Regions from separate parts of the Homo sapiens genome. Here region 2 is linked to region 1. The links come from fine-mapping of genetic effects on gene expression. A gene starts in region 1. The other region holds a variant in brackets. All regions are shown on one strand. Distances are between the middles of the regions.

Region 1 (15,653 bases):
GAAAACACAGGAAGAAGGGAGACCAGTTGGAAGGCTGATGTGGAAATCCAAGTAAAAAATGACGGGGCCTGACCTGGAGCAGAGCCAACAGAGAGAGTGAGAGGTGGATAGTTTAAAGAGATATCTGGGAGGTTGAATGAATAGGACTGGATGTGGAGTCGGGGGTAGAGAAGTGTTGATGTTACTAACTTGGATAACTGGGTGGATAGAGGTAGCTCCTGAGATAAGAAACACTGGAGGGGGAGAGAGTTTGGGCAGGCTGCAAGATGATTCATTTGTTTTGAATATGTTAGAGATTCCCGTGGAATTGCCAGTCAGTCCATGGGTATGGGTATCTACAGTTGCAGGAAAAAGATCTGTGTTTTGGAATTCAGATATTTGTGGATTTCTATGTATTTGTATCTGTCTCACTGGGGTTAGGGGCAGCAATCTCTGTTTTCAAACACATGAATATCTGTGCAGCAAGACATGGTCAATATCCACAGCAGATGGGATAAAAAAAAGAGTACAAATAGCCACCTAACAGTTCAGGTCAGGTTTTATTGGCAAATGAGTTTGTAAAAAATTTATGAAAAAAACCCGTAGGATATCAGAGTTTTCTATTTCAGAAAGCTGGATGCAAGATTCTCCACCTGTACTATCTCATTTAATTCTTACATCAACCATATGTGGTAGGCATTATTAATTTTTTTTACAGAAAAAAAACCCTGAGGCACAGATAGGTTAATGAAAATGCATGCTGAGATTACAGCATCAGTATTCAAAACAAGTCAGTCTAAGGTAGGAGAATGTTTCAAGAAGAAAGGATTAGTAATAGGCTCAAACGTCATAGGTGGGTAAAGTAGATTAGCAATGAAATTGCCTCACTGGATTTCGCAATTTAAAAATTACCTTTGGGGAGGCAACTTCAGGAAAACAGTTGAAAGGAGGCCAATTTGTTGGGGGTTAAGGAGTGAATAGGAGGCAAGAAAGTGGAGACACCTATCACAGACTTCTCAGAAGATTGACCATGAAGAGATAGGAGAGACAGAGCCAAATCTTGAGGGAAATAACAAGTTAAGAAAGCATTTTTAAAGCATGTTAAATGTCAAAGTGAGAAATGAGGGGACAGTCAGCAAAATGAGGTCTCCAGAGGCCCAAATGAATAGGATCCAGATCAGTGATGGAGGGATGGTGAGAGAAATTGCTTTCTATTTGTTTGGAAGAAAGAAGAAAAGGAAGAGAGAGCAATGGCAGGAAGTCTAAGAATTGACATCATGACCTGTTTTCTACGAGTGATCTTCTGAGACTGGGAGGTGAAAAAGTGATGACTGAGGTGTGAAAAGAGACAAGATGCTTTGAGAAAGCTACAGCAGATAATGGAAAATGCAGCTGATCAGGATGTACAGAAGGATTGGGCTGTATTGAGAAGGTCAAGTTGAGTTAGGAGGCCTTCAATTTATGGTGCATTAGTCTGGGAGGTTTTGTGGTTCTCTTCTGGGCTGCTCAGCAGATACAAGTACACAGAAACTCACAGCTGCATGTAATAGAGCCTTTGTGGGAGAGGTGAAACTGAAGGTATGATCCTTGGGAGCTGAGGATTTTCATACAGTATTGAAACCCCAGAGATTCCCATAGGATGCAGCCTTGTTCTAGGTCAGTGGTTCTAAACCTTGATACATATAGAAATCACGGCCGCGTGCAGTGGCTCATGCCTGTAATGCCAGCACTTTGGGAGGCCGAGGCGGGCTGATCATGAGGTCAAGAGATCAAGACCATCCTGGCCAACATGGTGAAACCCCAATTGTACTAAAAATACAAAAATTAGCTGGGTTTGGTGGTGGGCACCTATAGTCCCAGCTACTTGGGAGGCTGAGGCAGGAGAATTGCTTGAACCCAAGAGGCGGAAGTTGCAGTGAGCCGAGATTGCACCACTGCACTCCAGCCTGGTGACAGAACAAGACTCCATTTAAAAAAAAAAAAAGAAGAAGAAAAAAAGAAATCACCTGGGGAACTTTAAAAAAAAATAGTAATGCCTGTGTCTCATCCTTTGGAATTTTGATTTACTTGGTCTGGGCTGTGGCTTTGGGATTCTTACAAAGTCTCCAGGTGACTGTAATGTGCAGTCAGGATGGAGAATTATTGTTCCTCTGATCTCCTGTTCCCAAAGCAAGTTAATAACCTGTACCAGCCAGGATAGATAGACTAGGTTATGGCACAGTAACAAATAGTGCTGGATTGTCAGTATCTTGACACAACAAAGGTTTATTTCCTGCTTATATAATGTCTACTGAGGTCTAGGTAACACTTTTGGGCAGGTGTTCTCCTTGTATTTCTTGGCATTCCCTAGTCACTGAGGCAGGGGAAGAGGAAGATGAGAAAATAAGTCCTGGTTCTTAGATGCTCACTTGGAAGTAACACCCTTTCCCTCCATTCCTATTTCATTGACCAGCATTAGTTGCATAGCCACACTGATTTCAAGGAGCAGGAAAAGGCAACTGGATATTGGTGAACCTTAGTAGTGACCACTATCTAGAGCCTTCACTGTAAATGAAAGTTGAAGGGGAGGAAAAGGCTCATGTATTTACTTTCAAACACTTACATAGTGCTTATTACCTGTCAGATATTGTCTGCATTGCTTTCAAGTAGGAACTAACTTAATCTCCATATCAGCACTATTAAATAGGTAATTATTATCCCCATTTTATAGAAAGGGATGTTGTGCTTAAATAACCTGCCCTGGGTCATATAGCTAGTAAGTGGGAGAGGCAAGATTAAATTCTAGGTAGTCTGGGTCCACAGTCCAAGCACTAGGTCTCTCTAGTCTGCTTTCTCTCAACTTCGATCCTGAGTTGGGGGGAGCAGAAAGGAGGAAAGGTAGAAGATATGGGTGTAAATGTGAGATTTGGTGCATGCAAAGAAATTTAGTGATGTTTGTATGCTTCACTGCTAGAGCTGGGATAGGGCTTTGTGGAAAGGCACGCAGTGAAGTTTAGGGAGTTAAAAATGGAATGGAGTGATGCTGCTGCTAGTGAGGCCAACCTTGGAGGCCATGATAGGGAATCACTTTTGCCCCTTTCCTTTTTTCCTTCTTCCCATCCCTCCATCAGAGCCACCCATTTAGCATCTACATACAGGTTGTAACTTGGAGCTGTACTGAGGTTTGCTCAGAAACAGAAAGCAGGAAACAGGATAAAAATTTCCCGAGAAAGTAGTGCTTGGATCATTTGCACAAAAGGGATCAAAGAGTAAGTCCAACTGTACCTATTTGTAATGCATTTTTGAAAATTTACATATAATTACAGCTACTGTCAAGTAAACTATATTAGAAAATCTTCAGAGGAGGGGTATTTGATAAAAGAGTCCTTCAGTGAATCAGTAGTAATTCCAAATCATCACTTCCTACATCAGTTTTCTAAGCCTTCTCGTTTATATTGGTTTCGGTTAGACTAGAACACACCTGCAGTTCACTCAGCCAGCTTCCATTCTGCTGTGATTTAGGAGTCAGTGAACACTTCTGGGGATTGGAATTCTTGGTTATCACAGACAAGGTCTAATTACCATACCTGGAGGGACAGAAGAAAAGAACAAATGATTCTGTTTTAAAATGGACTTTTGACAATATAACAAAACGAAGCTTTGTCTTTGTGTGACATTGAAGCTTTCTAATTCCTATCTCTCTCATCTGTTAAATCTTGAGGTTTGTTCCCCACATACGGAGTCTGTAACACACTTTTAAAATGCTGTATTAGCACCTTGTTGCAACTGGCCAGCATATTCCTTAGGGCCAGTCAATCTATATGATGCTGCTACTCTATTTTCCTTGACTCTATTTTGATTGGGAACAGTTGCAAGTTGTTGCCAAGGGTTTCTCTTCTTTCATGGGCTGCAAAATCATCGATGGCAATAGAGATCCTTGATGTTGCTGGTTGTTACCACACTAGCCTAAGATTAGGTTATTTTCTATTATTTACAAGGAGCTCTGGCTACAGGGTCAGGAGACCTGATTTTAGTCTCAGTGCAGACTGTTCTAAAGCACTGTGTCATCTGGGACAGGATATTTCATCTCTCTGGGTCTTGGTTTCTTCCTTTATAAAATGAAAATTTAAACTAGAAGATTAAGAAAAGTGTGTAACCTTTTGACACTACACAGCTACATTTTTTATGATCATTAAAATAATCCAAACGTTATAATGCTATGGAGTTATTAGAAACAAAGAAGAAAGGATAAATGTCATTTAATTGAATCTGCAGATGGGAATAAGAAAGTTCTACCAGTAATTTTGTGATTGTGTCTTAATGGAGTCCAAAAGAATTTCCTCTTTGGGAAATGTGAGTTAATACACCCACAGAGGAATGATTAGGAACAAGAATATATATACTAGATGGGAAATGCTGAGAACCTGAGATTTTAAATCAATACCCATAGGCGAGATGTGGGCAGCTGACGATGTGCAAAAGAACATATAGATTTGAAATATTCTCTGTTAATGATGATGGAATTATTATAGCATGCTAGAAGTCTAGAATAGCAATCAATGAATTATACATGTTTAAAAAATAAGTCTGTCTATTCACCAACCCAGCCAATGAATGACTGATTAGTTTAGGATCATTTGAACACAGGTCACAAAAGAATCGCTAGAGTGGGAAATTCAATTATGTGTTTAAGGCTGCTGTGGTGATGGTGGTTTCAGTTCTTCCCACCAACTGCAGGGAGGGAGTTGTAACCTGGCCGTATCTCTTGAGTGCTGCTGTGGCAAGCTCACTACGGATCCAATCTGCACCTGAGTCTCTTGTTATTTAACTAAACACACCTGATGTATTTAAAAGACATTTTAACTGTAAGGGGATAAGCTCCATGGCCAGCAGCACTTCCTGTGGAAAGCTAGAATAGCCTAGTGTTATTCCACCGAGTCTCTTGATTTTTTTTTTTTTTTTTTTGCATAAAGATTTTTAGCGGAATAAAATTGCCTCGTGTCAACCTTCTGGGTTTGCTCAGCTGCCTGGTCTCTGAAAATTTCAGAGAGGGAAAAAATGACCCCAAGGTAAAGGCTGGATCCTGGTTTTGCATTTAGCTGCTTCAAGCAGTAGGCTTACCCAGTTGGGGAGAGGAGAGAAAGGGAGAGAGAGGTGGGGGGAGAGAGAGAGGTGGGAAGAGAGAGAAAGGGGAGAGAGAAGGGGAGAGAGAGAGGGAGGGGAGGGGAGGGGAGGGGAGGGGAGGGGAGGCAAGGAGGGAGAGAGAGAGAGACAGAGACAGACAGAGAGAGAGAGATCCTGTCTTGAGGTCAGTGATTAGTAATCTAGGGGGTTCCAAAAGGGGACAGGTGCTGAGATGTGTACTTCCACCCCTGCCTGGGGATTCTCCCTGCTTCTGGTAATCTGACCTTGATAATTTCTAACGCAATTACCTCTCCTCTAGCACATTCTGACCCCAGCAAAAGGGGACGCACCCATCCAACTATCTTTTCGCCTTCAACACTGAAGACTTCGCTCTACCACCAACCGCTGACGCCGCGGCAGTGCACTTTTGGTCCCCCACTCTTTGACCCTGTTTGCACAATCGTCCTTTCTCGACAGGCCCAGGTGCAGCCCCCAGAGAAAAGAGGAAGCCTTACATGTATCATATTTACCTGGAGGGCTTGTTTAAACAGATGAGTCAACCCAATCCTCAGAGTTCCTGGTTCCCTAACTCTGGGGTAGAATCCACTAATTTGCATTATAAACAAGTTCTTAGGTGGTGCAGATGCGGATGCTGCCCGTCCAGGCCACTTTGAGAACCACTGCCTTAGATCAAGGAAGGTGCCTCAGTGCGGGCTCCTCTTTCCTTTCCATCTCTCTCCACCCCTTTCGCATTTATGCCATTTTCCTTTCTCTGTGACACATTCAGGCTTTTGGACTGTTTGTAACGGTGCCGCTGCTGTCCGTTCTCAACGCCTGGAAATTGGGGGGTTTGTTAGAGGTGATTCGTGCCCTGCTCCACCCTGGCGCATCTTCGCCCCCACAGCCTTTACCGTTTTTCCATCGCTAACACTGCCCTCCTCACTCCCCCTCTCTCGGGTGTGAATTATTCACCCTCTTCCCCTACTCTTCACATCAAGTGCAACCTTTCCCGCAACTTTGCAGCGGTGGCGGGCTCGCGGATCGCCTCCTGCGCTCAGCGGTCCTGGGGGAAACTCCCCTGGGCGGCCGCACGCTCCCCCAGACGCCAAGCCCGGCCCGGGTCGCAGGGGCCATTCCGGGCGCCGGCTGTGCGCTCGGACTTCAGGGCTCGCGCTCCCGCTCCGGGGTGGGGTAAGGGCGGTGCGGAAAGCGCCAGTGTTCAGGAAGGTTTCAGGCGCCGGAGCCCGGAGGGGGGCGGTAGCAGCGTCAGGTGGCTGCTCTGCGTCCCCGCGCGCCGCCCAGCCAGTCCCTGCCCTGCTCTCAGCCTCGGCTGGGGCTGGAGCTGGAGCCTGCCCGCACCTCCGCCCCGGGAGCCGCGTCCGCGCCAGCAGCCCGGATTCGGGACCCGAGCGGGAGACGCCGAGATGTGAGCCTCCGACTGGCCACTGCTCTCTCTGGCACCCTCTTCTCCCATTCCACCGGCCCGATTGGACAGCGATCGCTTGCCTCGATCTCCGGGGAGAGGAGCAACCACCAGGCGCACAGCCCAGAAGTTGGGCTACGCTGTTCAGCCCGGAGCTCGCTGCGCGAGGGGGTGGACGAGGAGACCGGGAGACGAAGGCGCGGGGAAGGGGTCTCGGTCTGAGCTGAGGGGGATTGGGAGGGTGGGGGCTTGAGTTCCCGCTTGCGCTCCCCAGCAGGGGGAGAGATGCAGAGCCCGCGCCCAGGCGCCGGCCGCCGCGGTAGCAGCCTCAGCAGCAGCCTCAGCATCAGCACCGGCGGGACAGCGACAGCGGGGGCGGCGCAGGCGCACTGTGCCCCGCGGAGCCTGCAGTTCCCGAGCCCCGTGTGCGGCACCGCCACAGTCTGGGCAGCGGCGGCCGGGGGAGCGCTACTACCATGAACTGCCTGGTCCTCCTCCCCAGAGCTGCTCATCCGGGTCGGGCTGGAGACACAGTCAGGGGACCCCGTCGCCGCCGCCGCGCCCCCTCTTCTTTCGGCTCAATCTTCTCTTCCACCTTTTCCTCCTCTTCCTCCACCTTCTTTGCCTGCATCCCCCCCTCCCCCGCCGCGGATCCTGGCCGCTGCTCTCCAGACCCAGGATGCCGGGGGGCAAGAGAGGGCTGGTGGCACCGCAGAACACATTTTTGGAGAACATCGTCAGGCGCTCCAGTGGTAAGGAGAGTTGTAGTTCAGAACACCCCCACCTCCATCCCGCCCACACGCGCCCCCCATCCTCCCCATCCCATCCCTCTCCCAAGGGGGGAGGAGGATGCAGGCAGCCTTACCTGGTGGTTTCATTTACCAGTTGGGCTGGATTTGGGGTGGGGTGGGGTGGCAATGAGATGGTGGGGGAAAGTTAGTTGCATCCCCTTCCTACCAGACAGACTCACCCCCTCCCACCTGTCCAGAGCCCAGAACTGGAGGAAAGAAAGGGGTTGGATAGGGTGTAGGTACATCTGGAACATAGAGTTGAGTTTTGCTTTTATCTTTCTTGTTCTTCCTTCTCCCACATTTTTCCCCAAAGTGAGCAGCAGGGACTGACCAAATTCTGAGTTAATCTCAGTGGAAAGGTTTCCCTCAAGTTGGGAATGGCTGCGAAAGTGGCTACTTAACAAGATTTAAATCTCTGGAAAGGCTTTTGGCCCTCGTGGTCACGGGGAAAGGTGCTTTGTGCCGGGGAGAGTAGTTGAGGTTGAACCTAAGAAAGAGTTCAGTGCTTGCAAAATGGGAAGCCAATTACTGTGGACAAATTGGTGCTTCAAGTTTCTTCTTGCTATGTTTTTCACTGTACATTCATCTATATATTTCGTTTGACTTAAACATGAGAAACGTAGAAGTGAAGCAGTAACTATTGTGCTTTTAATGCAACTAGAAAAAAATCAAAAAGATGCCATCCTACCTTGCTACTGGCGTTAAAGTTTTCTTGCCTTAGTGTGTCTTTAAAATACCATCCATTTATACATTCATTTCCTACAAGATATTTTGGATGGGAATGGTTATATATTTCCACATTTTAAGACCTTATAAACTTTGCATCTTACTGAAATCTGCGTTTTCTACTTGTTTTTAATTCTTTTGTATAATTTTAAACTTCATAAGTAAGATATGTTGAATATCTTTTTAAGTTTTTCCTTCAGAGGCTGTTATTTTGACATCTCTTGCTTGGAGAATAATGAGAAAGACATTTCTGTATATGGAGTACAGTAGAGCTTGGAACAAAGCAATGGAAATACTCTATGCAGTTCCATAGTGCCTTGTTTATTCATTCATTGAAACAATATTTATTTGGGTGCCTTATACCACAGATACTCTGTGGTTTCTTGGGATTAAAAAAAAGTAATTAATACACATCCCCTCTTCTTAAGAGGCTCCTTGCCTAGTTGGAGGCACAGGGAAAGACAGAGGTACACTGAAATATCAAATAATTAAATAAATAATGCTTTCCCTAAATGGTAGATTAGATTATACTAATTCTTAGATTAGAATCTCTTTTAAGACTAGGCTTGTAAATATTTCCTCTGATTTTGAGACTAACTGTATTTAAGTGTTTCAAAGTATTTTCCCCAAATATCTGACTTGTTATTTGTTTTTAATTTGAGGTTTTAAACTTTATTTCTTCGTTTTGGCCAATGCCTGAAACAATAAAAGTCTAAAGCAGTAGTGTTGTATTTGGGTCGGAAAAAATAGCGAATAGGGTCTGGCCTAATATTCTTTTAAATACCTGTATATTTTTTAGTTATATAAATTCATAATGGTAGGCAATTTTTATTCTTATAGATTACCTTCTTGTATTAAGATTATACTAAACCTATAATACAAGGGGATATTACTCTTAAAACAGTTTGGGGAAAATGTGTGGATTATTGGAATTAGTTAAGTATACAAGTCTTCTTTCAGCTTTCTCATCCTCTTGGGTTATTTCAACTTCACGCAATTTGGTCTATGAGAGAACTTTTCAGAGAAGGCCTTAAAACATAAAATCTGCAGGGTTACGATTGCTCTGCTTTATAAAGAGAAAGAACATGAGAATCCCTTGACTAAACTTTATTAATATAGCAACTGTGGTTGAAGCTTCTTATGCAGACTATGAAACTATGAGATAGTTTTTTGAATTTTTAAAAATTGTAGATATACTATGAAATAAAGATTTACCTTAGGTGGCTTAGAAATGTCTGTTTCTGTTGCCTCCATTTTGTATCTACCACTCAAATTAATGAGTATTTTATCTTTTTTACACTTCATGTTCATAATCGTTTCATTGGTTAAATGTTTCTTTCCTGGACAATACCAAGTGAAAATGAAAATTTATCTGTTTTGGCACTTAAATGCCACCTCTAATCGCCTATGGCTAACTTTGAATACCACTACTCAAAGACCCTGAACTGTTTGAAGTGTGTTAGATAGTTGTAGTGAGTATATATGCAGGTGTGTGTGATAAATACTGAAAAGTCTCAGTACCTCTTTTATAGGCAGAACCTCAGAAATTGAGAATTATGGTATTAAATTGGTCTACACATTCACGGGGGAATATCCCGCAGTTGTCATTTCTATATGATTTGGCAGAGAAATAGAAAAATTTATCCTGAGAAATTGTTTAATTGAGACTAATAGAAAATTCCCTTCAGGATTCTCACAGATGGATCAGGTTTGTCACTTTGAAGGTTTCATTATTCACTAACTTAACAACATTGAAAGTGAAGTGTTGGCAGAGGTTTAGCAGGAAGAGAAAGAATAGCACCCAGCACTCCCAATCTATTTAACAATTGAAGAAACAGAGGCTGGCCTTGTCTTTTTACCTGAACCCCAAGAAAAGCTCTTTCTGATACAATACCATTTTCTTCTTATGAAAAGGTCAGATCTTACAGTGAGAGTCAGCCAAACATAGACATAGATATAGAGAGATACCCAGATAATACACAGTCACATAGGTAAACACTCAGCTGGTCAGGCATCCACCCAGAAAACTGAAAAGAGGAATATCCTACTTCTTCTTTTTTAGGATTTGTCTGTAAAGTGTGTCCACCACCCTACAGACAGAGAGGAAGCAATCTAACTCTTTTTCTCTGTCTTGCACACAAGGAGCAAAACAGAGATGTAGGAAACAAAACAAAACAAAACACACAGAGCAGAGAGAAAGGGGTGGGGTGGGAGAGAGAGAGAGAGAGATTATGGGACATGCAAGGGAAATGGACACAAAGAGAAAATGTCAGACATTTATTTGTCCATGGGTATCACCAATGAACTGAAATCTCAGCCAGTTACAAATTTACCAGAACATTTTTTTGATGATGTGAAACAAAAAAGCAAGAAGTGTGGCATATTTGAATATCAATTTTATACCTGAGGATTTCTTAATAAAGTTCCAAACTCCTCAGATGCAGTTTCCCAGAATACCAGCACTGTATTCTGTACTCCAGAGTGGCAACTATAACCTATGCTATTATTTCACACCTCTTGAGACTGGATTTTTATTTTCCTTATTTAGTTGACTCAGTCTGTTATAAGCGAGCATTGCAAGTTGTTACTGGTGATTCAAAGTCTATAAAATAAAATAATGAGGGCCATTGAGTAGGATGGATACACACACCCTTTATAGCCAAATCTCAAAAGAAGCAAGGAATTCTTTTTAGTTTAAAGATAAAAGATAAGATCATTTCTAGACAAAAGGAATTATAATAATTCTTAGCATGTGATTCTAGTAAATATAGAGAACATTATTACTCTAAGAAGTTGTAAAGTTTAAAGTATAAATGCTATAGGACGGCTTAGACAAACTTTTGGCTAGTACGATCAAAATAAGCCATTAGTAAGGGAAGGTTTAGAGGACTATGTGGTGAGTTCATTACAGCTGAGCAATGTCTCCCAGAAGGCCCCTGCCTCAAGGGCTTACAGACTAGATTTGTGTCTAGAACATTATTAGGATACCTTCCTTTATTTAAATTTCAATTATTTATGCAAACTATTAATCTAAATTGGGCTCTAGGGAGCAATAAACTTGTGGGTAGAGGTTAAGTATCTGGAAGAAAGTAACTGTTTTTAGGACTTTTAGGTTAAAATTTAGATTCAAAAGACAAAAAATATTTCAAAGACCTTCAACCTGATTTTGTCTTTGGGCAGCACATTTTACTCATATGTTGTCTTCAATTCCTTAGCAAATAGGCAGACATGATTAGTTTGAGTGACAGTAAGCTAGGTTGCTATTTTGAAAATTTTAACTACAAATTAATACCTTTTAACTAGAAATTATTATTATTTAATATTTTAAGCTTTATGACAAATTGGAAGTTTATTTTAGTTTTGTGGAAAACTAGAAGTGTTTTTCTTTTTGGGGAAAAAAGGGGTTCAGGAAAGAAGAAAACAGAGAAGGTAGTATTTTATGAACCACTTACCTTTCAAGAGAAGAAACTCAGTATCCTCAATTTTTCATTCTGCTTGAGATAGCTGGTTGCACAAGCACTTTTTTTACTCAGCTATCTCTTACTTGTAGAAAAGTCCAAAATTATTTTCATGCTGAATTGACATTTGTACAAACTGAGGTCTTAAAAGAAACCTATAAGAGAGGAAGCAGAACTAGTGATCTGTAAACAAAACAAAAAAGGAATAATAACTTTTACAATTAGCCAATTTAAAAGAAATAATGGAAAACAAATGGACATTATTTTGGTTGTTGTTGTTATAAAGTTATTGACATTTTTTCTTGAAAGGTTTTCTTTAATATCTAAGACACTATTCAGGAAATACTGATAAAACCACACAGTGTTTTTGAAGCACTGGTTTACTCAGGTCTTATAATGTACCACTTTAACATTTAAAATATCAAAGAGGTTGAAATTATACTGACCACTTCCTAAATTATATTTATACATAAGCCACAAGATTGTCCCTTGCATTAGATTCCCACACTGTGTTATATAATGAATGCAGCACATTGCTGATAGAGGGATGCTTATTCTAAGATACTGTTATCTTCACTAGAAATTGCCCTCTTTGTTTATCTTTTGCTTGATTCCAGAAGTAGGATGTGTAAGACATCCATCTACCTAGGCACCTTGTAACTGACTTACTAAAAGGATCATATAAACATTATTTTTAATAGAAGGGCGTAGTTATGATTATTTTAATTGATAGCGACTGAGTAGATTTCCTAAAGAAGCCCTTTAGTTTAGTCAGTGTTTATCTTTTTCTTTCCTTGTGAGTCACAGCCGAGTTTCTTAGCTTGGAGGAACAATGCTTCTGCATTCTCCAGAGTGTAGCCTAGGAAAAGGTTGTGCTGTTCACCAAAGTACTGTAGTTAGTATTTACCACAAGAGGTCACTCTGGGTTCTGTCACAGGTGAACCAAGTAGTTAATATTTTTCTCTTTTTCTGTTCTCCCACCTCCCCCTTCCCCCACCTTGCTTGCCACCCCCCAAATTTGACTGGGAGGGAGTCAATGTAGTTAGTTGGTGCTCTTGGAAGAAAATATCTAAAATGTAAGACATGCAGGAAAGTTAAATGAAAAAAGGTATGTATTATATTAATTATTAGAATTTATTTTAGTTGACAGTGATCAACATTTTATAACTACACGAAAGTGATACTGATAAAAATTGTTTCTGTAAAGAGATGGATTTAAATACATTTTAGACTAATAGAGCATTTTCTTTAGCAGATAAAATTTTATGGTAATACGCAATTTCAGCATTTCATATACATACAGTATATGAAATATAAAGTCTTGCAGAAAAATGACCTGTACATAATGCTTCATATTGAGCCACTTCAACAGATTTTTTCTCTATGAGACATCTTTATATAATTTATATTGAATTGGTGAAGTAGAATCAGTTCATAACAGTGCTTTAATTTTATCAAAAGATAGTTTACAGATTTATAGTTACTTCCTCAGGATGTTATGTAATCCTAGTATTTTATTTTTACCCAAATTTTAAAAATTAAATACAGAGCTAAATTGTTTAAAATTATTAAATAATATTTTCAAAGTTTTTTAAATTATTAAACTCCAAAAGACAGGATTGGGAGTAGACTGTTTTAAGAGGTTTTGTTTCCTCTTAGTCAGTAAATCTGAATTTTGGTTTAAGGCAATTCTTTTTTCTTTTTGGTGGGTTAGAAACCATATAGCAAGAGATACTTTGAAATGTTCCACACAATTTTGGTTTTAATGGGAAAAATTGAAACATGTCTTAAAGTACTTTTATAAATACAAGAGACGTGTTGTGAATCAGATAAACATGGATAACAAATCACAATCCAAAACCAGTGGCAATTATTGTTGTGGAAATTGAGGTCAAAGAAAGTAGTGTTCTAGAAAGTATTCTAGAAAATGGACATTTATGAAACAAATTCCTTTACCAATAGCAAAGCAGAATGTAAAAAAATCCTCAGCATTTTCCACTAAATAGTCTAGCTTTATAATACATGACATGAGTCCTTTTCATCATTTAAAGATAATTAAAAAGAATCATTTAAATATTCCTATTTTATATAATATAGAAACTAATATATTAGAAAGGCTGAGTCTTGAAATATATTTGATCAAATGGAGGCAGTAATAACTATTGTCACATAGATCAGTGTGTATTTTAGACATCATTTTAGTGTTTGGTTATATGTGGATACTATTACCTAGTAAAGAGACATATTTATATACATTCTAGATAGTAGTTTTGTGATATATTAGGTTGACAAAAGAAAAAAGAGGAAAATTAATGAGCACAGTAATTTAGAAAGAAAGTGTGGTTAGAAAGCTATTGGAAATTTTATTGAAAATAGATTTCCCTCTCTCTTTGGGTCTGGTCCCATTACAGAAATATAACTATTAAGTACAAAGTCATATGGATCTCAAAAGATACGCAATTTGAGATCTGAGCTTATGTGCATAATCATAACAGCTTGTAGATATAAGGACATATAATTGGGAAGTCATGAAAATTTTGGTATATGAACTAAGCTCCCTGAGGATATGGGTCATATCTTAAAAAGACTTTTATGTCCTCCACTGTGCAGAGCACATAGCAGTAAGTATTCGTTGAATAAATGCTTTTTTGATTTTTGTCTCCTAAAGTAACCAAGACCATAATTAATTCTTTCCCCAAGCCAATGCTGATTAAATCTATTAAGTGAGCTTGAATAAGTAATTACATAGTTTAAACTATTTAGTTAATCAATGCATATATCTGAAAACAGAAACCACACTGCATAGGGCAAATCAGATGGTACTTCTGAGAGGATGAGAAAGGAATATGAAATGGATCCCATGTTCACTTCCTATTCCAAATTGAGGTGCGGCTGAAATATTTTCTACCATTTTTGTTTCAGTTGTCAAGAGCTTGAAAGCTGGACTATTTAATACCAGAAAGAACTGCTTAAAAATTTGTAGATTCTAACTAAATTATTTTAACAACTTTGCAGTTAGCAGTTATTGATGGTGAGTTTTATCCCTGGGAATCAATCCTTACCTGCTTAAGTACCTTCTGAGTGAGTTTTGCCTTGGGGAGCAGCTTACAGCCCTGTGCAGTATGCAGCAGAAGAGGAAAATGAGTTTTAGATTTTTAGAGACTGCAGGGCCAGCCTCAGGTTGCCATATCTAACTAAAAATCGAACAACTCACTTGGATTGAGGGGAAAAGTTAACCTTTGTCCTGATCTTTTCTGTAAGCCCTTTTTGGTCTGCTGGCATTTATTTTTATTTTTTAAATTTGGGGGAAAATTAAAGCACAATGATTTTATTTTTATACATTTACAAGCATTGAAAAAATAGAGGAGTTCCTCAATGGGGGTTAAAGAGTCTCAGAATAAAGACTCCGAAATACAACGCTGATCCTTTTGCTTGGCTCTCATGCCCTTTCTAGTTAATTATCCATTAATGCAACACCATTTTATTGAGTACCTACTATGTGCTAGGCAGGGATCTAGCACTAGGGATTCATAATGAACACAGTGACAAAAACAATGTTTCTCCTGTTTTTCTGTGGAGGGCATGTGCATATTTATAAGTTTCTAGAGGCCTGTATTAGAGTCCTGGCTCTGACACTTACTAGCTCGGTGACTTAACTTACTTGTACCTAGTTTCCTTATCTATAAAATACAAGTAATAATAGTACCTAGTTTATGGGGTTAGAGTGAGGATTAAGTTAGGCAGTACATGTAAGTACGGAGAACGGTGCCTGGCACATAAATAAGCATTATATCATGCCAGTAGTTATTATTATCATTTAGTTGTTTAAATATTTGAATGCACTTTCTATAGTTGATGTTTTTAATTCTTAGTCACCATTTCCTTCTGCACCTCTTTTCAACTAATTTCCGCCTCCTCCATAATGCTGAAAATTCCTAGAAAATTATGAGTGCGCATTCTTCTCGTAAATCTTAAGATCTTTTCTTGGTCCATATTTTTTCTGACTTTGCAAGGTTTGAAACTATATTCCCCTACCCTCTCCACCATTCATCTTATAGCTATCATGAGCTTACAAGCCCTGCTGCCCTTTCTACTGGCTTCCCTTTTTGTTCCTCTCCTCCTCCCTCCTCTCCTTTTCCTTCCTAAAGAATGAGTTGAGTAGTCCCACAAGTT
Region 2 (15,653 bases), 59 kb before region 1:
AACCAAACAATATATATCTCTTGAAGAAAGCATTCAGTGACACCAAATCCGAGCTTGTAAGGGCTTCACTAATTTCCCAGATCAGTTGCCAACCACTTTTTCATACCCTATCAAAGCTGGAGGAAGCTTAGTTAGCACCATATTTCCCTATAATTTACTCATTCTTTGTGACCAAATATTTTAAGCTTTTCCCCAACTCCTAAAAACAATTGTTCACTCATTCCTCTGTGGCCCCATGTTACTTTATACATATCTTCTCTATGGTCCTGTTCACCTGACAGCTATTTCTTCATATATGGGTCTAGACTATCCTGTCTAATGAGGTAGTTACTAGCTACATGTGGCTATTTAGATTTAAATTAATTAGAATTAAATACAATTGAATATTCATTTCCTCAGCTTCACAACTCATATCTCAAATGCTTCATAGCCACAGCTGGTTAGTGGTTACCATATTGGTCAGAGTGATATGGTTTGGCTCTGTGTCCCCACCCAAACCTCACCTTGAGTTATAATAATCCCCACGTATCAAGGGTGGGGCCGGGTGGAGATAATTGAATCATATGAGTGGTTTCCGCTATACTGTTCTTGTGATAGTAAATAAGTCTCACGAGATCTGAGGGTTTCATGAATGTGAGTTCCCCTGCACAAGCTTTCTTGCCTGCCACAATGTAAGACATGACTTTGCTACTCATTCGCCATCAGCCATGATTGTGAGGCTTCCCCAGCCATGTGGAACTGTGAGTCAATTCAACCTCTTTCCTTTACAGATTACCCAGTCTCAGGTATTTCTTTATTAGCAGTGTGAGAAGAGACTAATACACAGAGCATTTGTATAATCACAGAAGGTTCTACTAGACAACACTAGTCTGGATTTTGATTTTGAATGCTTGTATTGATAATCTTTGTATTCTCTGCCCTTAGAGTAGTGCCTATAATAAGGTATTCAAAAATGCTTGTTAAATAAATAAATGAATAAATAAATAATGAAGAATTCCTTTATCATGTTAGATCTGCAATCTGAAAAATTTTTTTTCTATAAATTTTCAAGGTCTCTTTTTATTGAATGGAGAACACAGGCTTAAGAATTTGTTTTTCAAGTTTTAAGGGCCCAGTAGAAATGACTTTTGAACAGGGAGAAGGACTTTGTCTGGCAAACAAAATAAGGAAGGGGATCCAAGGAAGATGAACAGAGATAGGAACAAAACATCGGGTTTAGAGAAATTGGATGATTGTAAAGTTCATGGCAGTTAACTATTATTGAGCACTTACTATGTGCTAGGCACTCTTCCACATCCTTTACATATACTGCCTTACTTAACTTTCAGGGAATATTATTACATCCATGTTACCAGTGGGAAATCAGAGGCACAGAGAGGTCAAATGACTTTCTCAGGTAAGTCACTAAGTGACAGAGCCAAGATTCAAGCTCAGGCAGTCTGGCTTCAAAACCTGGAGTCTAAATCAATTTATTAGTAAGGCCACCTCTCCCCATGAGTGACAAAGGCTAAGAGATTAGGCTGGAGAAGAAGTGAGAGCAAATCATGATGGGGCTTGCAGGGTACCGGGAGGAGTTCAAACTTTATCCTGTAGCTCTGGAAAAAGAAAACTTTTAAGAAAGGAAAATAGCTTTGGATGTTTGTTTTAGAAATCGCACTGTGGCTGTAGGATGAAGGGTAGATCACAGGAGGCAGATGTACCACCACAGGGTTTACCAACTTCAAAAGCCAGCAGAAGACAAGAAATAACTAAGATCAGAGCAGAACTGAAGGAGATAGAGACACAAAAAACCCTTCAAAAAATCAATGAATCCAGGAGCTGTTATTTTGGAAAAGATCAACAAAAATAGATAGACCACTAGCCAGACTAATAAATAAGAAAAGAGAGAAGAATCAAATAGATGCAATAAAAATGATAAAGGTGATATCACTACTGATCCCACAGAAATAGAAACTACCATCAGAAAATACTATAAACACCTCTATGCAAATAAACTAGAAAATCTAGAAGAAATGGACAAATTCATAGACACATATGCCCTCCTAAGACTAAACCAAGAAGAAGTTGAATCCCTGATTAGACCAATAACAAGTTCTGAAACTGAGGCAGCAATTAATATCCTACCAACCAAAAAAAAAGCCCAGGACCAGAGAGATTCACAGCCAAATTCTACCAGAGGTACAAAGGTGAGCTGGTACCATTACTTCTGAAACTATTCCAAACAATAGAGAAAGAAGGAATCCTCCCTAACTCATTTTATGAGGCCAGCATCATCCTGATACCAAAACCTGGCAGAGACACAACAAAAAAAGAAAATTTCAGGCCAATATCCTTGATGAACTCGATGCAAAATCCTCAATAAAATACTGACAAACGGAATCCAGCAGCACATCAAAAAGCTTATCCACCATGATCAAGTTGGCTTCATCCCTGTGATACAAGGCGGTTCAACATACGCAAATCAATAAACGTAATCCATCACATAAACAGAACCAATGACAAAAACCGCATGATTGTCTCAATAGATGCAGAAAAGGCCTCTGACAAAATTCAACAGCCCTTCATGCTAAAAACTCTCAATAAACTTGGCATTGATGGAACGTATCTCAAAATTATAAGAGCTGTTTATGACAAACCCACAGCCAACATCATACTGAATGGGCGAAAACTGGAAGCATTCCTTTTGAAAACCAGCACAAGACAAGGATGCCCTCTCTCACCACTCCTATTCAACATACTACTGGAAGTTCTGGCCAGGGCAATCAGGCAAAAGAAAGAAATAAAGCGTATTCAAATAGGAAGAGAGGGAGTCAAATTGTCTCTGTTTGCAGATGACATGATTGTATATTCAGAAAACCCCATTGTCTCAGCCCAAAATCTGCTTAAGCTGATAAGCAACTTCAGCAAAGTCTCAGGATACAAAATCAATGTGCAAATATCACAAGCATTCCTATATACCAATAACAGACAGAGAGCCAAATCATGAGTGAAATCTCCCATTCACAATTGCTGCAAAAAGAATAAGATACCTAGGAGTACAACTTACAAGGGATGTGAAGGACCTCTTCAAGGAAAACTACAAACCACTGCTCAAGGAAATAAGAGAGGACACAAACAAATGGAAAAACATTCCATGCTCATGGATAGGAAAAATCAATATTGTGAAAATGACCATGCTGCCTAAAGTAATTTATAGATTCAATGCCATCCCCATCAAGCTACCAATGACTTTCTTCACAGAATTGGAAAAAACTACTATAAATTTCATATGGAACCAAAAAAGAGCCCACATAGGCAAGACAATCCTAAGTGAAAAGAACAAAGCTGGAGGCATCACGCTACCTGACTTCAAACTATACTACAAGGCTATAGTAACCAAAATAGCATGGTACTGGTACCAAAACAGATATATAGACCAATGGAACAGAACAGAGGCCTCAGAAATAATACCGCACATCTACAACCATCTAATCTTTGACAAACGTGACAAAAACAAGAAATGGGGAAAGGATTCCCTATTTAATAAACGGTGTTAGGAAAACTGGCTAGCCATATGCAGAAAGTTGAAACTGGATCCCTTCCTTAAACCTTATACAAAAATTAATTCAAGATGGAGTAAAGGCTTAAACTTAAGACCTAAAACCATAAAAACCCTAGAAGAAAACCTAGGCAATACCATTCAGGACATAGGCATGGGCAAGGACTTCATGTCTAAAACACCAAAGGTAATGGCAACAAAAGCCAAAATTGACGAATGGGATCTGATTAAACTAAAGAGCTTCTGCACAGCAAAAGAAACTATCACCAGAGTGAACAGGCAACCTACAGAATGGGAGAAAAATTTTGCAATCTATCCATTTGATAAAGGGCTAATATTCAGAATCTATAAAAAAATTAAAGAAATATACTAGAAAAAAAACAACCAACCTCATCAAAAAGTGGACAAAGGATATGAACAGTCAATTCTCAAAAGAAGACATTCATGCAGCCAACTGACATATTAAAAAAATCTCATCATCACTGGTCATTAGAGAAATGCAAATCAAAACCACAATGAGATACCATCTCACACCAGTTAGAATGGCGATCATTAAAAAGTCAGTAAACAACAGATGCTGGAGGTGATGTGGAGAAATAGGAACACTTATACACTGTTGGTGGGAGTGTAAATTAGTTCAACCATGGTGGAAGACAGTGTGGCAATTCCTGAATGATCTGGAACTAGAAATACCATTCGACCCAGCAATCCCATTACTGGATATATACCCAAAGATACATACCAAAAGACATGTACACATATGTTTATTACAGCACTGTTCACAATAGCAAAGACTTGGAACCAACCCAAATGCCCATCAATGATACCTTGGATAAAGAAAATGTGGCACATATACACCATGGAATACTATGCAGCCATGAAAAAGGATGAGTTCATGTTCTGCAGGGAAATGGATGATGCTGGAAACCATCATTCTCAGCAAACTAACACAAGAACAGAAAACCAAACACCGCATGTTCTCACTCATAAGTGGGAGTTGAACAATGAGAACACATGGACACAGGGAGGGGAACATCCACAATGGGGCCTGTCATGGGGTGGGGGGCTAGGGGAGAGATAGCATTAGGAGAAATACCTAATGTAGATGATGGGTTGATGGGTGCAGCAAGCCACCATGGCACGTGTATAACTATGTAACAAACCTGCACATTCTGCACACATACCCCAGAACTTAAAGTATAATAATTAAAAAAGTAGCTAATGCATGCGAGGCTTAATACCTAGGTGATGGGTTGATGGGTGCAGCAAACCACCATGGCACAAGTTTACCTATGTAGCAAACCTGTACATCCTGCACATGCATCCCAGAACATAAAATAAAATAAAATAATATTTTTTAAGAAGAAGAAAAAACTATACAAGAAATGATGAGAGTAGTGTGCAGGGGGTAGAGTGGAAAGGAGTTGGTGTGAGAGAAATTTGGATGTTAGAAGTGACAATATTGACAACTTTCTGATGTGTCAGTGAGGAAGAGAGAGGACTGGACAATGACTGGGCAGGTTTCTGCTCTGGGCGCGAAGTTGATGGGGAGACATTTTACTGATGTTGGGAACACCCAGGGAAGAACAAGTACAGATGGGGTGTGGGAAGGCAATAGGTGCTGGGTGTAATTTTTAGCTAGGTGAATTTGGGGGTGTTTGTGGGATGTTTAGTTGGAGATAACCATTGAATCTTTGCTAGTTCAAATCTGAGGCTCAGGAGAGGAGTGCTTAGAGGTTTGTATTTATTAGCAAAAAATTGGTAGTGGAAGCTGAAGAAAGAAAACACATGAGACAAAAAGTATGGAAAGAGTAGACTGTAGTACATCAGCATTGAAAGAACAGGTAGAAGAGGAGGCCGCAAACAGATGGAGAAGGGATGTTAAAGAGAGGAGGAGAACAGGGCGATTGCTGCCTTCTCTCAATGCTGGAGCATTTCTCTCTAATTAGCTGTTACCTTCACCTAGAATCCAGAACCCTTTTTTTCAAATGAAATATTTTTGTGAGTCTCAATATTTTAAACAGAAATAAGTATAGATGTTTTGGTTGAAGTGGGGTCAAGTGTAACCACATGTAACCACAATCTATGCCCTGAAATATTATGCTATCTCAACACATGTTTTTAGAATTAACTTTAGTTAATTTAAAGTCTTTATTTAAGTCTTTATTTAAATAATTTCAAGTCCTAATAATTCACTTAAATAGAGAAGTGTGTTTTGGCCAACACTATTTTTGAACTTTGATGATGATGATGATGATGATGATGACAATGATGTTCTTTTGTGGCTGACACTCTTGGTTGTCTAATAGTCTTTTTCTTGTCAATTGCATTTCTCATTTCTCCCTACTGTTCGACTTTTCATTGTTGGCAAAGTTCTGATTTGGTTTCCTTGTTTTCCTTTCACTGCTTAAGAAAAGCGAACTTCCCAGCTTCAAGGCATAACTGGTCTACATCAGTCGTGGTGGTTTCATTTCCTTTGTCAGTGATTTGCTTAGGAATGAATAGAACGTGTAACTCACTTTTGGTGTGTAGAACTGAGGGTAATTCTTCTGAGAAGTTTCTGGAAAGGCTTTTTTTTGTTTTCATTATTGAAAATAGCTGCATGGGGAAAACACACCTATTATTAGTTGGCTGTCATCATTGACTATGATATCTGAAATGTTCTAGCTTTCTTGTGACCATAAGGGGAGGCATTGCATACTGAGAATGGCACAGAAGAGAGAAGGGAAGAAGCTGGAGTCTTGAAGATGTTATTCAGTAGCTGAAATAACTGGCCCAAAGCTGCTCTATTCTTGGGCTTCTAGTTGTCTGATACAATAAAATTCTTTATTGTTCAGACCTCTGTTAGTTGAATCTTCCATTACTTGCAGCTGAAAGGATCATAATAGTTTCAACTCCTCTTCTGGCATAAAGGTTATGATCCTGAAAACCCATTCATTCTTTTATACATTTAATAAATATTAATTGAACATGTATATGCAAAGTGTTACCTAGGTGCTGAGAATACAGTAGAGAAGAGCACAGGTAAGGAGCTGTCATCAAGGAATGTAGTAAAAACAGAGAGAAACTTAGTGTGTCTGGAGCATAGTGAGTAAGGGGGAGAGAGTTATGAGGCTCAGTTAGAGAGAGGTGGAGGCAAAACTGTGCATGGTGTTGTAGGTAAGGTTGAGGATTTTGAACTTTATTCTAAAAACGGTGGAAAGAATTGAAGAATTCTAAATGAAGGAGATGTTACAGATTTGCATTTTTTAAATTGACTCTCTGGCTTCTGTGTAGAAAATGCACTGAAGAAAGTCTAGGATAGAGGCATAAAAGCAGTTATTTACGATTGTCCAGTGAGAGATGTCATTGGTTTGAACTAGGAGGTAGTCACAGAAATGGAGATAACTGTGTGACTTCAAGTTATAATTTGGTGGTAGAATTATTAGGATGTCACAACCAATTGGACCTGGGGAGTAAGGGAAGGATAATTGTTAAACTGATAATTGTTAAATTTCTGGCCCTGGGTAGAAGATGGTGCAATTTTTGAGATAAAGAACACTGGAGAAAAAGCAAACTGGGGTAGCATATGATACAAGAATTCCACATGCATGTTTATAGTGGCACAATTTGCAATTGCAAAAATGTAGAACCAGCCTAAATGCCTATCCATCAACAAGTGGATAAGCATGGAATACTACTCAGCCATAAAAAGGAACAAAATAAGGGCATTCGTAGCAACCTGGATGGAGTTAGAGACCATTATTCTAAGTGAAGTAACTCAGGAATGGAAAACCAAACATCCTGTGTTGTCACTTATAAGTGGGAGTTAAGCTATGAGGACACAAAGGCATAAGAATGATACAGTGGACTTTGGGAACTCGGGGTGGGGGGGGGAAGTGGGAGGGGGTGAGGGATGAAAGACTACACATTGGGTACAGTGTACACTGGTCAAGTGATGAGTGCACCAAAATGTCAGAAATCACCACTGAAGAACTTTTCTATGCAACCAAACACCACCTGTTCCCCTAAAACTATCCAAATAAAGATAAATAAATAGAAAAAAAGAGAAAAAAGATACAAGAATTTGGTTTTGAAAATGTTAAGTATGAGATAACTGTGAGACTTTCAAGTGAAAATTTTAAGAAGGAAAGTGGAGGTGCAAGCCTGGATCTTTTAAAAATAAGAAGCCTATCAGGAGATAAAGAATTTAAATTATCTAATACTGAATCAGTGTTAACAGATTTGTGATTTGTAGTCCAGCTTTCTGTGCCTGACAACTAAATACATGCGATTGCGAGATGTATGCTTATGAAGTCTTTCACCAGAGCTTTAGCCATAAAAAGGAGCAAAGTTAACAGAGAATTGAGCCTGTGCTCTAGGTCTCATGTTGGGCATTGAATAATGTGAACTAACCTGCATCTACATGTCACAGACACTCCTATTGACAAAACTCTCAAAGTACATCCCAAATTCTACTTATTTTGCTCATCTTCACAGCTACAGTCCTAATCCAGGCCACTATAATATTTTATCTGGACCAATGCCATAGACTTTTAGTGTCTCTTGGCAGAGATGCCAAATAAACAGTTGGATGTATGGTTTTGGGGTCAGGAGAGAATCTGGGGTTACAGTTCTAAATTTAGAGTCATTAGAATGAGAGGGGAGTTAGCAGGAATCAGGGCAGTATTCCAAGAAGGGGAGGAATGTACAAAAGCATAGAAGCATGAGATAGTGTTGGTCTGGAGAACTACAAGATGAAAAAAGAAACCAGTATTAGTTAAGTATAATTAGTCACTGAAATAAACACTTATAATAGAGAAGACAAGGAATCTGCCTAAGGTGACACGATTAGGTCTTTAAAAATAATACAGTAGATTGTTATTTAATCAACGTGGCTTAAAATATATATGGGTTGGGCTAGTAGTTGGGAGTGGATGAGAGAGATTAATACTTAGAAAAAAGGCTGATTCAGAGGCAACTATATGATCAGTCTTACATGCTACACAGAGTTTTTAGATTTTATGTTGTAACTTCATTTGCTTGCACAAATGTCAGAAGAAGCTTGAGTGATGATGAGAGAAACAAAATAATTCAAATCCAACAAATAACGATTAAGAACCTATTATGTACACTCTGGATGATACAAAGGGCTGTGGCCTTTGAGATGATTATCTGGTTGGGGAAATGAGACACTCCAACTAATAACTACAGTACAAGGTGGAATGTGAAGCCAGTGGAATTTAAAGTCAGGATACGTGGAAAGTTAAGATGTTCCAAAGAAGGGTGGGTGAAGAATGAAAGGCACAAAGAAAGCTTTTGTGAATATGTGAGTTTGTTTTCTGTGCAAAAGAAGGGGAAAGGACTGAAATTGTCAGGAGAGGGTGTGGTGGAATCAGAAAGAGATGAAGACTGAATTTTTTTTTTTTTTTGAGACGTAGTCTCGCTCTGTCCCCCAGGCTGGAGTGCAGTGGCGCGATCTCAGCTCACTGCAAGCTCCGCCTCCTGGGTTCACGCCATTCTCCTGCGTCAGCCTCCCGAGTGTCTGGGTCTACAGGC[A/G]CCCACCACCACGTCACGCTATTTTTTTTTTTTTTTTTTTTTGTATTTTTAGTAGAGACGGAGTTTCACGTGTTAGCCAGGATGGTCTGGATCTTCTGACCTTGTGATCTGCCCGCCTCGGCCTCCCAAAGTGCTGGGATTACAGGCGTGAGCCACCGCGCCCGGCCGAAGACTGAATTTTTGAGCAAATGAAAGACACCAACAAAATCCAACACATAAAGATTCACACTTGAAACAGATTAATCAGGGTAAGGTTAACTATGTTACCAAATAATGGTTTCGTGAAAGAATTAACTATAGAGTAAGCAGTGTGCTCTTTCCAAGGACAAGAGAGAATTTTATCTAAGAGATTTTCTTTATACAACTCTAGCTCTCACAGGAAGCAAGGTAGGTCCTCGTTTCAACCCTCCGCCCCCACCCCACACACCATCGGCACTTTCTTTTCTTCTTTGGTGGACACGGCTTTACTGCTGCATCTCATTTCCTGCCCAAAAAACAAGGAGCACACACAAAGTAGATTAAAAATGTAGGTAATGAAAAGAGATTAATAGCCTGAGCAGGTAGTTGGGCGGCTGCTTTGGGGGAAGCTGATCACTTTCCGTTATAGGCTAAGGTCATTGTGATAATGTTGGTCAAAATCTGCCCAGAGGAAGCAAACTGCTTTTAACTGTACTGCTGTTGGTTAGCAAACCATCATACTGGTTTTGTGTTTGTTTATTAATTCTCCATTAAATCTGGATAATACTGTTAAGCATAAAGCAGTAAGCTTAAAAATCAGAAATATTTTGGAATTTTCTCTGAAACCATAACAACATATCTTAAAGGGCAACAGAAAGCAAAATTGGGTTTGTCAAAGCTAGACATTTCTGCTAGAAAAAATTGAGATTTATAAGATAAACCAAAAAAGTTATATCTTGCTAGTCTGAGATTCAGAACAAATGGGAAAAAGAGTCTAAAGATCTTAGTACTCATGTAATAACTTATTCGATGTATATTAAACAATTTTTGCAGTAGTAAGACTTGCATTCTGAAGTGGTGTGTTTTTGAGAATACAGGTTTCTGTCTCTCCCCTGGCCCACCCCTCCCTACCATGAGCTTCAGAGATTGGAGGTATACTGCATTGTATGTGTGCATGTCTGTGTGTAAAGCTTTTGCTAAATTGGATTTTTCATTGCAATCTTACCACAGGATTTGTGGAATCCTTTCCAGATATGATATTACATTATTGTAAAAGCTTTACTCCTCTTATCTTTGTGGGCAGAAGGGTCACAATGGACTGCATATGAGGATTAAAATGAGCCTGCCCTGGAGCAGAATAAACCAAATGGATTACACAAAACATTTTAACAAATGCTGGAGGTCCTGGCTTGCCTTGATCTTTTACCTCTGAGATTTCAGAAAATGTTCTGAGACTATCGTTTGGAGGAAAGCAGAAATCAGATATAAAAATTCCAGCAGCCACAAATGCTGAACTTATGTAAAACATTGATCTCAGTTTTAGGAACCACTTAAGTCCTTTCTTTAAAAAATGGTAGAAATGTTCTTAGCTTTTTCTGCGTTGCGGAAATAGTGCATTCCAAGGCTCTGCCCTATGCTCTTCTCTTCCCTCTCTCTGCTTCAAAGGAGCTCATTTTCCTTCCCTGGTTTTCTTTGTAACTTGCAAGTGAGGGTCTGGGCAGTTTCCAGCCACACCTCTGAGCTGGCCTCACAACCCAGGGCCCTCCTACTACCTGTGGTGGCTCTAGAATTGAAGTTCTGGAACTGCCACTCATCCAGTGTGGCTAAAACATAGACTAGCCTCTTCGTTACTAAATTGTTATTGCTAAAGCTTTTGTGGGAAAGTATTAACCTGAGAGTATATTAATAGCAGGGTCTAGGATGAATATGATACTTTTCCTCCAAAACATTATAACCTAAGCACTATACTGGCTTGCTAGCACCCCAGAGAATTAATTAGTAAGAGCATCTCTTGCTACCTCCATTCAAAGAGACTGATGTTTTCTGTGTAATTACCCTATTAGTAGGTTATCGGTGATTAAAGTATAAGTAATTAAGGTATTATTAGTAGTAAAAGTCTTTTTTTAAAAAAATAAAACAAACTATAATGAACAACATTAGACTTTTAAAGTACGTAGAACAATTTATATAGGTGAGAGAAATAAACCTCTAATGGGGGAGAAAAAAGGACAAAGAAGAAAGTGGGGCTCTCTCCTGCTCTTCTGGACAGCTACATCAGGGAACCTAGAGAAGCTGATCCATTGTTCAGCAAAGCACATTAATGAGCCCTAGAACAGCAGTGATACACTCAAGCCAAGCCATAGGTAGCATAGAGTTACAGTGTTCTGCAAATTAAATAGGGGAATTGAATTTCCAGAGGACAGCTTGAGAAGCAAAGCATGAAGTCTTTAGGGAATACCTACTGTTTATATTTTGTTTTTCACACAGTACACTACTCAACCTTCCTGCCTTGTGTTTTGTGTAGAAATCAAAGAAAAGGGGTCACGTTTATTCTGATACAGAATTGGAAGGGCAGAGTGAGTGTGACTAGAAAAGACAAAGGCAACCTCTTTTATGATCTGTCTTTCCCCATCCTACCTCAGATATGGAGAATCCCTGGGGAGTATGGGCAAGGTAACACTGAGTGGGAGATGGTGATCAAGAAGGTGACTTCCTAATCTCAAAGTGCATCTGAGTTACACTTGGCTGTCATACCTGCTTGTTAGCATTCCCAAAGGGAATTCTAGAAAAGGTAGTGAAGATCATATTTGGAGGATAATCTTTGGAGCCACCCTGACCTGGGTTTGAATATTGGATATGAAAATATAGAATCTGTGTGACTCTGAGCAGATTTTAAGACTTTAAAAAATGTTTGACTCCTCACCTGTGAATTAGGGACAATGATTCCTTAGGATTTTCTACACACATGATCATGTTTTCTGTAATTAAAAGACAGTTTTAAATTTTCCTTTCTAATCTGTATTTATTTTAAAACTTATTTCACTTGTTAGGTCCTCTAGTGCAATGTTGAGTAGAAGTGGTGAGAGCAGATATTCATTACTTACTTAAAATCTTAGAGGAAGAGATAAAAACATTCAGAATTTCACCATTAATTATGATTTTGCCTACATGCTTAACATATATGTTCTTTTTCAGGTTAAAGTTCTCTTCTCTATTAGTTTGCTGAGAGTTTTTATCACAAATTAATATTGAATTTTGTAAATTTGTTTTAGCACCTAATGAGTTGATCATATGGTTTTCCCTTTTTATTCTGTTAATACAAGTTAAGCATCCTTAATCCGAAAATCCCAAATCCCAAATGCTCCAAAATCTGCAACTTTTTTGAGTGCCAACAATGATGCCCTGCCCCAAGTGGAAAATTCCACACATAAGTACTTAACACAAACTTTATTTCTTGCCCAAACTATTAAAAATATTGTATAAATTTACCTTCAGCCTATGTGTATAAGGTGTTTTTGAAACGTAAATAAATTTTATGTTTAGACTTGGGTCCCATCCCCAAGATATCTCATTATGTACCTGTAAATATTTCAAAATTCAAAAAAAAAAAAAAGAAAAAAGTGAAATCCAAAACACTTCTGAACCCAAGCATTTTGGATAAGGGATACTCAGCCTGTACAGTGAATTGAAGTTATTGATTTTCAGACATTAAACCATCTTTGCATTTCTGTGAACAATGCTACATGGTCATGATGTCCTTTCCTTTTTCTATATTGTTGCAATCAACTAGTTAAAATTTTATGAGTTTTTTGCATTTATGCTAATGAGGAATATTAGTCTATAATTTCCATTTCTTGCATTGTTTGGTTTGATATCATGCTAATGTTGGCCTCATAGAATGACTTAGGAAGTGTTCCTTTTTCAGCTATTTTTCTGGAAGAATTTGTGATTATTTCTTCCATAAATATTTGGCACAGCCCACCAGTAAATTCCTTTGTGTCTGGAGTTTTCTTTACGGGGAAAATGTTGAAGTACAAATTCAGTAGATAATAAATATTAAGTTATTCAGATTATTCTTGGATGAACTTTGGAAGTGTGTGTCTTTCAAGTAATTCAACCATTTGATCTAAGTTTTCAGTTATTGGCATAAATTGTTTACAATATCCACATATTATCTTTTAAATGTGGGTAGGAACTGTGGTTATATTCCCTTTCTCAATCCTGATAGGGATAGTTTTCTCTCTTATGTTCTTGATCAGGCTGACTAGAAATACATTAATTTTATTGACTGACTTTTGGTTTCATTGATTTATCTTTATCTTTTTTTTTTTGAGATGGAGTCTTGCTCTGTCACCCAGGCTGGAGTGCAGTGGTGCGATCTTAGCTCACTGCAACCTCCGCCTCCTGGGTTCAAGCGATTCTCCTCCCTCAGCCTCCTGAGCTGGGATTACAGGCACCTGCCACCGTGCCCAGCTAATTTTTGTATTTTTAGTAGAGATGGGGTTTCACCATGTTGGTCAGGCTGGTATTGAACTCATGACCTCAAGTGATCTGCCCGTCTTCGCCTCCCAAAGTGCTGGGATTATAGGCATGAGCCACCACACCTGGCTCTTTTTTGTTTTTATTACGCTAATTTCTCCTCTTTATTATTTCTCTTCTGGTTACATTGAGAAGGGTATGCCTCAGGGTAGAGAAATTCTTCAGTACATTCTGATATTAACAATTCCGTTTGTTTTCCTCTGCCTGAAGCCATCCCAATTTATCCTGCCCCTCAGGGAACCTCCCTGTACCTTCGACTCAGGCGCTACTCTTTTCTAACAGATGCCTCCCACAGCTGTAATTAGGAGGCTATACAGTTTGGGGGAGTGGTGATGAGAGATTGGCCCATCCTGGAGTTATTGGCTTGCTAGTGCAGCTGGCTATTCCCAAGGTGGTCCTACTGATTGAACATCCAGAACATGTCTGGAGGGAAATAGGTTCTCACAGCCTTTTTCCTATCCATAGTGCCTGACTTTCTTGTGCTCTTGGCTGCCATTTCCTACCACTCCTGGGTCCCAGATTCTATCTTCCTAGAGATTTCTCCTGGTTTTTGCTTTTCTGTGTTTTGTTGGTTTCTTCCTGGCATGTGGGCATCTCTAAGGCTCAGTTCAAAGATGAGAAAACCAACACTTTGTGTCTTCCTTTCCCCCAGCTCCCTTTAGAAATGTTCTTTTCTTTGCATCTCCGCTTCTGCTCAGGTGTTACTCAGGCTGTATTAGAGAATTTAATTTTTCAAATGGGTCCTTTGAATCTGAAGAGTCTACTTAGTATTGCAGAATCTTGGTTACATTGTTTAGCAATGGAGGGTGACTTTAATTGTAGATAAGGAGAAATTCCACTAGGTGCATATTCTTTCTACTAGAGAGATGTTTTATCAGTTGTTAAATGAATAATTAGAAAAAAACCTTTCAGGTTGTTTTACAGTGTGATTTGAGAAAAGAACAAAGTGTCAAGTGTGCACTAAATTCTATAGGATGGTCATTATCAAAATAATAGAGCTAGAGATATTACATCTTTTTATTTTAAGATTTCAATGAAATAGTCTAGATTCAAGATAAGGCTCCGGAGAAAAAGAGCGAATAAGAGCCTTCACTGTAACATGCAAATAAGCTGTCTTGAGTGGTGGCAGAGGTGAAGAATGTTGGCAATTTGGCTGATTTTGTTTCTTTTCTGGAAGGGAGGATTTGGTCATGTGAAAACACCGTAAAAGAAAACAGTGTAACTACAAATCATGTCTTTATGAGAAACAATGAAAAACCTATTCAAATCCGCTTTCTTGCTACATCTTCTCTGTACTATGGAACTTCAAAGTGTAATTACTGGGCCAAACAAAAACAATGAATTAAAAAAAAATAAAAAGCCATATACCAAGACAAACATACTTCCCAGAGGTTCCTAGCTTATGTATAATCCGCACTGCTTCCACACAATAAACAATTCTTTGGGTTTTTTAAAGCTGTATTAATATTAGAATAAATTCAATATCCCCAGAGAATAATTATTTTCCCTTAACGAATAATAATAATTATTCTGTGGCCTTATATGGCCACTTTTCCCCCAAAGAACTGATGAGAGTGTTCTACTTCTATTACACTTTTGTGTGTATATTTGTGATTTTATTTCTATGCTATATTATTAAATGAAATTGTTTTATATATATATATATAAATAAAATCTATGTCATTCAGATATTTTTGTGAGGCTAGAAAACATCAAAGGTCTGCTGGGCTGTGTTGTCCTGGTCAAGTTTAATTCCTTGTGCTTCCATTTCCTCATCTGTAAAATGGGAATCATCATGCTTAACACATGGAGTTTTTGGAAAGCTTGAGGGAGATTATGAATGTTAAAGTAGGTTTTCAAATGGGGTGCAAAATACAGATATAAGTTGTTTTAATTATTCATATTAAATGATTATTAAAATAATAATTATTATTGGAGAAATATTTCTATCACTTTCTGAATACTCTGAATTTTTTTAGAACATCTCTACTTGGACTCAATGGAATCGTTGTATCAAAATTCACAATGTAAAAGCAATTTTTTTTTAAACATTTAGCTTCCACAGTTAGCTTCCTTTTTA

Which allele goes with the higher level. Positions count from the first base shown, and alleles are read on the strand shown. Sizes are in standard deviations (SD) of each study's normalised expression.
With allele G in place of A in region 2, the expression in testis of the gene that starts at base 6,913 in region 1 is higher (moderate effect, 0.47 SD a copy in GTEx).

What was found. PIP is the estimated chance that this variant, and not a neighbour inherited with it, causes the effect.
Region 2: its variant is fine-mapped to the expression of KCNH5 in testis (GTEx, PIP above 0.99).

Annotation. Positions count from the first base shown.
Region 1 is chr14:63,036,718-63,052,370 of GRCh38, reverse strand. KCNH5 (potassium voltage-gated channel subfamily H member 5) reads left to right here and starts at 6,913. Exons shown (of 11, transcript NM_139318.5): 1 at 6,913-7,257. The coding sequence starts at 7,185. RefSeq lists enhancers at 6,645-7,148, 7,149-7,652.
Region 2 is chr14:63,095,471-63,111,123 of GRCh38, reverse strand. No RefSeq gene overlaps it. Among named protein-coding and RNA genes, the nearest start is that of KCNH5, 58 kb to the right of the region's middle. The variant A/G (reference allele first, on the strand shown) is at 9,077.